2 linked regions of the Homo sapiens genome follow. Changing the gene in region 1 together with any one later gene gives a genetic interaction. Each region holds a gene or a part of one and is shown in the gene's direction. Other genes may lie near its edges.

Region 1 (5,606 bases):
CTGTACTGGCTCTTTTCATTTGTCTAAGGGCAGCAAAATAGACTAAAGTTGTTTTCAGACTGCACAAGAGAAGTCTGTTCTTTAGCACTTACCTGCATAACTCAGATAGTGTTTTTAACTTCCTCAACTCATGCTTGGCCTAGTGGGGTCAAAAGAACTACTTGTGAATTCCGTATGTCCAATTGGTAGCTTACTGTTTTTTCTCAAGAGTTTAGCTATACAGTAACGTTGGAAGTCTTGAGGAACTTCAGCTGCTGTCCCTACTTAGCCTTGCAATACTACGGCATCTTTTTTTCTTTTTCTTTTTTTTAAAGACGGAGTCTCACTTTGTCACCTAGGCCGAAGTGCAGTGGCACAATCTCGGCTCACTGCAACCTCTGCCTCCCAGGTTCAAGTGATTCTCTTGCCTCAGCCTCCTAAGTGGTTGGGATTACAGAACATGCACCACCATGCCCAACTAATTTTTGAATATTTAGTAGAGACGGGTTTCACCATGTTGGCCAGGCTGGTCTCAAACTCCTGACCTCAAGTGATCCACCTGCCTCGGCCTCCCACAGTGCTGGGATTACAGGCTGAGCCACTGTGCCCCCGACCTACAGCATCTTTTTAAGAGCAATGTTTTCTGTTTTAATGTGGCCAAGCAATCTCTAAACGAACATGGTCTGACAAAATTGTGTAGTGACATACTTGACAACTGGGTGAGCTTGAGTGTGATACTTATTTGACCATACGGTATTTCCTCTATATGTTTCCTTATCTTTATATACAAAAAAGGGCAAATGATAATGTCTTAGTCATAGGATCAAGTACAACCCAAGTGCTTACTGCTACACTCTACTTGGCAAATTCCACCTTATGAATGTTTCTTAATATATAAACCTAATCTAAACCAAGATAAGCTACAGGTGCATATTAACAATCTTTACTCATAAAGCTTTGCATATTTTTACATACTATTCTTCAAGATGGAAAAAACACCATCAAACTGGCTTATTTTCATAGATGTCTTTATATAGTCTATGATGTCTTCATTCCATAAAAAATCCACACGATTAAATATGAAATTAATGTACCCAGCTATGAGGCTACCGCATTCTTTAACCCAAGAACAAGAAAATACATGAATCAGAGAACTGCAATTACCTACTTGCTGGTCTATTTCCTCATTAGAGTGAATTTTTTGAGGACTAAATTGCATTTCTCTATCTCTAATGCTTACCCCCTATCTCACTGGCTCTGTGTGTTTGAGTGCATGCGCTGAATGTTTATATCACTTAATTTCTGTTCGGAACACGCTGTCTCTTAGCACCAGTAGATCTGGCCTTAGAGCTAAGGAAAGAAGGCCTTTCTAACCCATAAGGGGTACTAATCCTGTACAGACTCCAATATCTCCCGGGCTGGGTACACGCAGGTTCACACCCAGGTGTGAGCAAGATTGCCAAACTATACCTATAAGGCGTTTGGAGGGGAGAGTCCAAAAGTCACGAGACCCGGCTAATTTAGCTACTATTTCACAACAACCCTGATCGTGGTCGGACTTGTTTCTAGGAAGATGCGATGGGCTGGAACTTCCTTCAAGAACAGATTGCAAAAGGCAGCCGACCAGGGCGTGTCAGGTCACTGCCAAGGGAAGCAGCAGCGGAAACCGTCGCCTCCGGCTTAGGCTGCGGAGCGGGAACCCCATTCTCTGAGTTATGTTTCTGCCTAAACACGCAGAACAAAAGAGTTCGTGGCTGCAAGGGTGGCGCGCGGTAGTATTTCTTGCTAATAAAAGGTCCCCACAGGGACATTTTTGCTATGACTGCAGGCGTGGCCAGTCTCCCTGCACAGCTTCCGGGAAGAGGTGGGGATAGGAGGCTCGCCCCGGGGAAGGTTACGCTCGGGGTCCCCAGACCAGGTCTCCGCACGCCCCTGCCCCGTCGCCTCCCGGGAGCGGCTGCAGTCCCCGTTGGCTGCAGACGGGCAGACACCCGAAGTGTCCGCGCCGGCAGCCGGACCGCAAGCGAGGAAGAGCGAACCGCGCTCCCGGGCCTGGCCGAAGCGCTTCCTGTGCCAGGTTTCCGGCTCCGGGTCCCGGGAGGAGGATCGCGGGCCAGAGGCGGAGCCGCCGCCCTGCCGCGACTTTCAGACTCCGACCATGGCCTCGCGCTGGTGGCGGTGGCGGCGCGGCTGCTCCTGGAAGCCGGCGGCGCGGAGCCCCGGGCCCGGCTCCCCCGGCCGTGCGGGACCGTTGGGGCCGAGCGCCGCTGCCGAAGTCCGCGCGCAGGTGAGGTTGGGAGGCGCGCGCCCGGCGGGGCTCAGAGGTCACGGCTCCAATGACAGCAGTGGGCGGAATGAATGGGAGCGGGGAGCACGTGCGTCGCGACGCGGGGGCGCGCGGGGTAGCTCCGGGGTAGCTCCGGGGTGGGACTCCGGAGCTGAGGGGTGCTCGCGGTGGGACGGAGCCGCGCGTTGGACTGAAGTAGGGGCGCCCTACACGGGGTTGCAGAAAGCGGTGTCCTGGGGACCCCGGGAGCGTTTTGGGGGGTGGAGAAAGCGGTGGGATCCGTGTCCTGGGGGAAGCGCAGGAGCGATCAGATTGACCGCTGCTATATGGACAAGGTTAAGCCTGGAGAGCGACTGCAGCTATTTACTTTGGAGTTAGAGGAAGACAGATCTTGCCTGAAATTTTAGAGCCAAAGTGCTCAGAGCTCTCTCCGAGAAACGGAGGATCGAATCGGCCTCGGAATAGTCCGAAAAGGTCTTGTGGAGAATGCAGGGCTGGTGCTAGGGTGGACCGGACCTTAGTTGTCCAGCAGTGGCCTCGGGAGGAGAGCACACCTGGATGGGGCTGGAATGACACTGGAAGGAGAAAGGCCCGAGGCCGTCAGGAGGAGAGAAACCCTGGAGTCATCTAAAGTCAGAATCTCAGCGATAGCCCATTCTTTCAGGGTCTCCTCTGCTGCCTTTGGGTTCCGATCTCCTTTTTCTCCCTTTCTGGTCAGTTTAGCCCCTGTAAATGGACACTGTGAGCCCTTCTGCGCTTTGTAATGATTCTCAGTGTGCCATGGGGTAGGCCCATGCTATTAGCATAACCGTGCAAAATCTATGGACTCACTGTTACTTAAGTTTATTTGAATTTAGTACTCTTTTAATTCAGATTTGGTATACTTTATGTGTCCGTGTTCTCATCAAACATCATTTCCCAGTATGAAATATATAACACTTATAAATATCTACTTTGTACCAAAGTAGATGCGTATCACAAATTATCCAAAACAAGGCTTGGGCCAGGCACAGTGGCTCACACCTGTAATCCCAGCACTTTGGGAGGCTGAGGTGGGAGAATCGGTTGAGGCCAGGAGTTTGGGACCAGCCTAGGCAACATAGCAAGACTCTGTCTCTATAAAAAATAGAAAAAATTCACCAGGTGGGGTGGTGCATGCCTGTAGTTCTACCTACTCAGGAGCCTGAGGGAGGAGGATTGTTCGATCCCAGGAGTTCAAGATTACAGTGAGCTGTTTATTGTGATAGTGCCAGTGCACTCCAGCCTGGGCAACAGTGTGAGACCCTATCTCTAAAAAATCTAAAGCAAAAAAGACGTTTGGAGACCAAGTGGCAGCTGGGCAACTAGACAATGCTAGAGAGTAAAGAGAACAGAATATGGGGGGTGAGGGGCATGTGGGAGAAGAGGCTTAGAGGAGGAAGGTAGGCTTTGCTGTGATCCATTTCAGGACTGTTCTCTCCAGACTTCAGATATTTCTAGTTCCACAGAAGAAGCCAGTATTTGAAGAGATGGGTGCATCCACCCTCTTATGCCACTACATGCTTCTTCTTCTTCTTCTTTTTTTTTTTTTTTGACACAGAGTCTCACTCTGTCGCCCAGGCTGGAGTGCAGTGGCGGAATCTCGGCTCACTGCAAACTCCACCTCCCAGGTTCAAGCGATTCTCCTGCTGCAGACTCCCAAGTAGCTGGGATTACAGGCGTACACCACGACCCCCAGCTAATTTTTGTATTTTTAGTAGAGACGGCATTTCACCATGTTGCCCAGGCTGGTCTGGAACTCCTGACCTCAAGTGATCCACCCCCTCCTCGGCCTCCCAAAGTGCGGGGATTACAGGTGTGAGCCACCACGCCTGGCCTGACACTTCTTTTTAAAAAAGTTTCTTGCCCACCAAGCAACCTTAGCCAGGGAAAGTGTGCTTTTCTGGAGAGAATATGCTTTATGGCCTCCCCGTCTGCATGACGACAAGGAGGAATTCTGTGGACTCATGATGCCAAGATCATGTATTTCTGATGTGTGTGTCAGTGATGCCTTTCACTATATGTTAATATGTTAGCATTCTGGTGTCTGCCTCAGGCATGTGTATTTTGGTTACTTCAAGTCTCTTAGGGCCTGATAGTCCTTGGGGACACAGAACTACAATAACTAAGCCACAGGGACAAAGAGCGGCAATAATTAAGCCACGTCTTGCTCTCCACCAGAGCTCTACTACCTCCTAATGGTTGTACATTCTTCTGACTTCACTAGTAGTGTGAACAAATATTGTAATACAATAAAAACCAGTGTGCATGTGATCGTGCCAAATCACTTCTCAATATATCTTTGATTTTTTTTTTTAATTTATTTTTTTAGAGACGGGGACTTTTTGTGTTGGCCAGGTTGGTCTTGAACTCTTGGACTCAAGCCATTCCCCCCTCCCCCCCACCCCGCTTGAGGATTGGCACACGGCCATGTATTTGATTCTTACCCAGCACTTTCTCTTTAGCTGAGCGTGGTGGCTCACGCCTGTAATCCCAACAGTTTGGGAGGCCGAGGCAGGAGAATCCCTTTAGCTCAGGAGTTCGAGACCAGCCTGGGCCACTTAGTGAGACCTCCTGATATGGTTTGGCTCTGTGTGCCCACCCACATCTATCTCGAATTGTAATCCCCAATTATATTTGGGGACCAGGGAGGGTCAAGGGAGGGACCAGGTGGAGGTAATTGGATCATGGGGGTGGATTCCCCCATGCTGTTCTCATGATAGGGAGTTCTCACAAGATCTGCTGGTTTTATAAGTGTTTGGTAGTTCCTCCTGTGTTCATTCTGTCTCCTGCCGCCTTGTGAAGAAGGTGCTTGTTTCTCCTTCTCCTTCTTCCACCATGATTCTAAGTTTCTGAGGCCTCCCCAGCCATTCAGAACTGTGAGTCAATTAAACCTCTTTCCTATAATTATAGATTGCCCAGTCATGGGTAATTTCTTTATAGCAGTGTGAGAATGGACCAATACAGATAATTGGTACCAAAGTAGTTGGCATTGATATAAGATACCTGAGAATGTGGAAATTACTTTGGAACTGGGTAACAAGCAGAGGTTGGAATAGTTTGGAGGGCTCAGAAGAAGAAAGGAAGATGTAGGAAAGTTTGGAAATTCCTAGAGTCTTGTTGAATGGCTTTGACCAAAATGCTGAAAGTGATATGGACGATGAAGTCCAGGCTGAGGTGGTCTCAGATGGAGATGAGGAGCTTCCTGGGAACTGGGCAAAGGTCACTCTTGCTATGCTTTAGCAAAGAGACTGGTGGCATTTTGCCCCACCCTAGAGATCTGTGGAACTTTGAGCCTGAGAGAGATGATCTGAAATTGGAA
Region 2 (3,500 bases), on another chromosome or scaffold:
CCAGGCTGGAGTGCAGTGGTGAGATCTCGACTCTCTGCAACCTCCGCCTCCCAGGTTCAAGCGATTCTCCTGCCTCAGCCTCCTGAGTAGCTGGGATTACAGGCGCCCATCACCACGCCCGGCTAATTTTTGTATTTTTAGTAGAGACAAGGTTTCACCATGTTGGCCAGGCTGGTTTCGAACTCCTGACCTCAGGTGATCCACCTCGGCCTCCCATAGTGTCGGGATTACAGGCGTGAGTCACCGCGCCTGGCCCCCCAGCTGTTTTTTATGCTCCATGCTTGGGCTTCCTGTTAAGAATTAAAAAAGAAAAAAAAAACTATGGAGATGGAATTTACATACTGTACAACTCATTCGTTCACAGTGTACAATTCAGTGGCATTAAGTACATTCACACGGCTGTGCAACCACTACTTCTAATTCCAGAACGTTCGGTCACCCCAAAAGCAAGCCCCATTCCCATTGTGTCACTCTCCATCCCCTCCACCAGCTCCTGGCCACTCTGAATCCACTTCCTGGCTCTGGATTGGCTTGTCCTGGATATTGCATAGAAATGGGATCCTGTCGGCCGGGCGCGGTGACTCACGAGAGCAAGAGATCCAGACCATCCTGGCCAACATGGTGAAACCCCATCTCTACTAAAAATACAAAAATTAGCTGGGCGTGGTTGCGGGCACCTGTAGTCCCAGCGACTCAGGGGCTGAGTCAGGAGAAATCGCTTGAACCCGGGAGGCAGAGGTTGCAGTGAGCTGAGATCATGCCATTGCACTCTGGCCTGGCGACAGAGTGAGACTCCGTCTCCAAAAAAAAAAAAACAAGAAATGGGATCCTGTCATCCCAGCGTTTTCCGAGGCCGAGGTGGGCAGATGACTTGAGCCTAGTAGTTCAAACGAGACCAGCCTGGGCAGCACGGTGAAACTGTCTCTACTAAAATACAAAAATTAGCTGGGCATGGTAGCACACGTCTGTAGTCCCAGCTACTTGCGGGGCTGAGATGGGAGGATCGCTTGAGCCTGGGAGGTGCACTCCAGCCTGGGCGACAGGGAAACCCTGTCTCAAAAAAAAAAAAAAAAGTGCATCACACACTGTGTGTCCTTTAGTGTCTCACTGTGACATCCTCAAGGTGCAGCTAGGCTGTGGCTCGAGTCAGAGCCTCACTGGTTTTTGTGGCTGAGTCTTGTTGAGTGCGTGGATGGGCTGTGCTGATCCTCGTCTGTGGAAGGGCCCCTGGGTGGTTCCACATCTCGGCTGCTGTGCGTCCTGCTGCTGTGAGCATCTCGTGCTCCGTTTCTGCGTGGCGTGTACTGTTCCTCAGGGTGTGTACCTGGGAGTGGAGCTGCTGGCTCACAGGGTAACAGACCTTTGGAGAAGCTGCAGACGCTTCCACGCCCACCCACTGGGTGTGAGGACCTTGCTCCTCGTCATTTTTGTTTTTGTTTAATTTTTTCTTTTATGAGACAGGGTCTTATTCTGTTGTCCAGGCTGGAGTGCAGTAGCACGATCACAGGTAACTACAGGCTCAAGTGATCCTCCCACCTGAGCCTCCCGAGTAGCTAGGACTTGAGGCACGTACCTCCACACCTGGCTAATTTTTGTATTTTTAGTAGAGACAGGGTTTCGCCGTGTTGCTCAGGCTGGTCTCGAACTCCTGAGCTCAGGTGATCCACCCGCCTCGGCCTCCTATAGTGCTGGGAGAAATGAAGTGTCTGCGACAGGGCGGCAGCTGCAGAGGGGGCTGTGCTCTCTGGCCTGTTGTGCCCCACCCTTGTGACAGGCAGGTGGGCGTGGCCAACTGGGCGGCAGCTGCAGAGGGGGCAGTGACAGGCGGGTGGGTGTGGCAGGACCCCACAATGTCTCTTTCTGTGGCGTCTCCTTCTTCGCCTGCCCCTTCCTATGGGCCATCCTTCCAGCTCACCTGCGGCCCACCCTCCAAGGAGTGGGACCCTCGGAGTTGGGAGCCCTTGGCTGCGTGGGACTGTACTGTGTGACGGAGCCATCACCAGGGCTCCAACTCACCCTGGCTCCTGCCACAGTCTGGGCTCCATCTGTGCTACCATTGCAGTAGTCTGGTTTCTAGGAAGCAAAACTGTTACTGAGTTACAAAGCTCAATTAAGAGTGTCCTTTGGGAGGCCGAGGCGGGCGGATCACAAGGTCAGGAGATCGAGACCATCCTGGCCAACATGGTGAAACCCTGTCTGTACTAAAATACAAAAAAATTAGCCGGCTGTGGTGACACGTGCCTGTAGTCCCAGCTACTCGGGAGGCTGAGGCAGGGAAATCACTTGAACCTGGGAGGCAGAGGTTGCAGTGAGCTGAGATCGGGCCACCGTGCTCCAGCCTAGGGACAGAGCAAGACTCTGTCTCAGAAAAAAAAAAAAGTGTCCTAACTGTGTCCTCCAAAGCCCTCGCCGGCCGATGACAGACTAGAGGGCGCTGTGCTCCCACCCCCTACCGCCCTGAGCCTGGACGCGTGGCCCCTGCAGGGCCCTTTCCCACAGCACTGTGAACTCACAGCTTCTCTCTAGGGAAGGGAGGAGGTACGCCACTTCCACAGGGAGATGGGGAGGCCGACTCCAGGGATCCAGGCCATCATCCTGACGTTGGGTCGGCTGATACACCCCTGTCCTCTCTGTCCCAGGGAAATTCAACTACTGAGGAGGTTACGGCACAAAAATGTCATCCAGCTGGTGGATGTGTTATACAACGAAGAGAAGCAGAAAATATATCCTTTCCGGTGTTGGGACCGCGGGGCCTCCGTGGGAGGGGCTGGGGCCCTGGGTCCGCCTGCCTCGAGGCCTGCTCCTCTTCCCGTCTCCTTGAAGGAGACTGGCACACGAGGGCCGTGGCCTTCCCTGGTTCCCCGGAAGTCAGCCATTGTGGCAATGGCTGCGCAGCTTGCTGAAAGGGGCCCTGAGCCCTGGCCCCTGTGTCTTGGGCCCGTGGGGTGTCAAGTCCCTTTTTTCTCAGAGTCTCCTCCCAGGCTAACCAGGGGTGTAGCCACGGTCTGCCTGAGACAGGCCACGCGGGCTGACCGTTGTGGGCCATTTTGGTCGTGGCTGGGCGTGTCCTCGTGTCATCTGTGGACACCCCCATGGGTCTTACGGGCACAGCCTCCCTACGGGGACTTTGCTTCCTAAGGCCCTGTGCCCAGAGCAAGAGCCAGAAGTGGTCCTGAGGCTGGGGCTGTGTTCCCTGAGCCACGCGGTCAGGGGCCCTGGGACCGTCCTGCATGGGCCCGAGCCTGCTTGGGGGGGCGTCCAGGAGGCACCATCCCCCGCCCATGGGCAGGGTGGGGGACGTGAGCCCCGCAGGAACGCTGCCCCAAGAGTCAGCCCTGTCCTCCCCTTCCCCGTAGGCTCCTTCCTCCTGGGACGCTGGGGCCCCTGGGCCTTTTCAGAGGGGTGGCTGAGGGCAGGGTGGGCCCTGGTCCCGAGGAGGGGCAAGGTGGGTGCAGAGGGTCCCTCCAGAGCCCCTTTTCTGGCCCCCGTGCTCCCTGGGC

The links.
Region 2: changes in PDSS1 (region 1) and STK11 together harm fitness more than expected from each alone (negative genetic interaction), as found in Homo sapiens cells (one large-scale study listed by BioGRID).

What each region holds. Positions count from the first base shown.
Region 1 is NC_000010.11:26,695,575-26,701,180, forward strand, and holds the start of PDSS1 (all trans-polyprenyl-diphosphate synthase PDSS1), read left to right. Parts: upstream 1-2,126; 5' UTR 2,127-2,137; coding exon 2,138-2,266; intron 2,267-5,606. UniProt on the Homo sapiens protein: Heterotetrameric enzyme that catalyzes the condensation of farnesyl diphosphate (FPP), which acts as a primer, and isopentenyl diphosphate (IPP) to produce prenyl diphosphates of varying chain lengths and participates in the determination of the side chain of ubiquinone.
Region 2 is NC_000019.10:1,215,778-1,219,277, forward strand, and holds part of STK11 (serine/threonine-protein kinase STK11), read left to right. Parts: intron 1-490; exon of another isoform or gene 491-621; intron 622-2,639; coding exon 2,640-2,723; intron 2,724-3,500. UniProt on the Homo sapiens protein: Tumor suppressor serine/threonine-protein kinase that controls the activity of AMP-activated protein kinase (AMPK) family members, thereby playing a role in various processes such as cell metabolism, cell polarity, apoptosis and DNA damage response.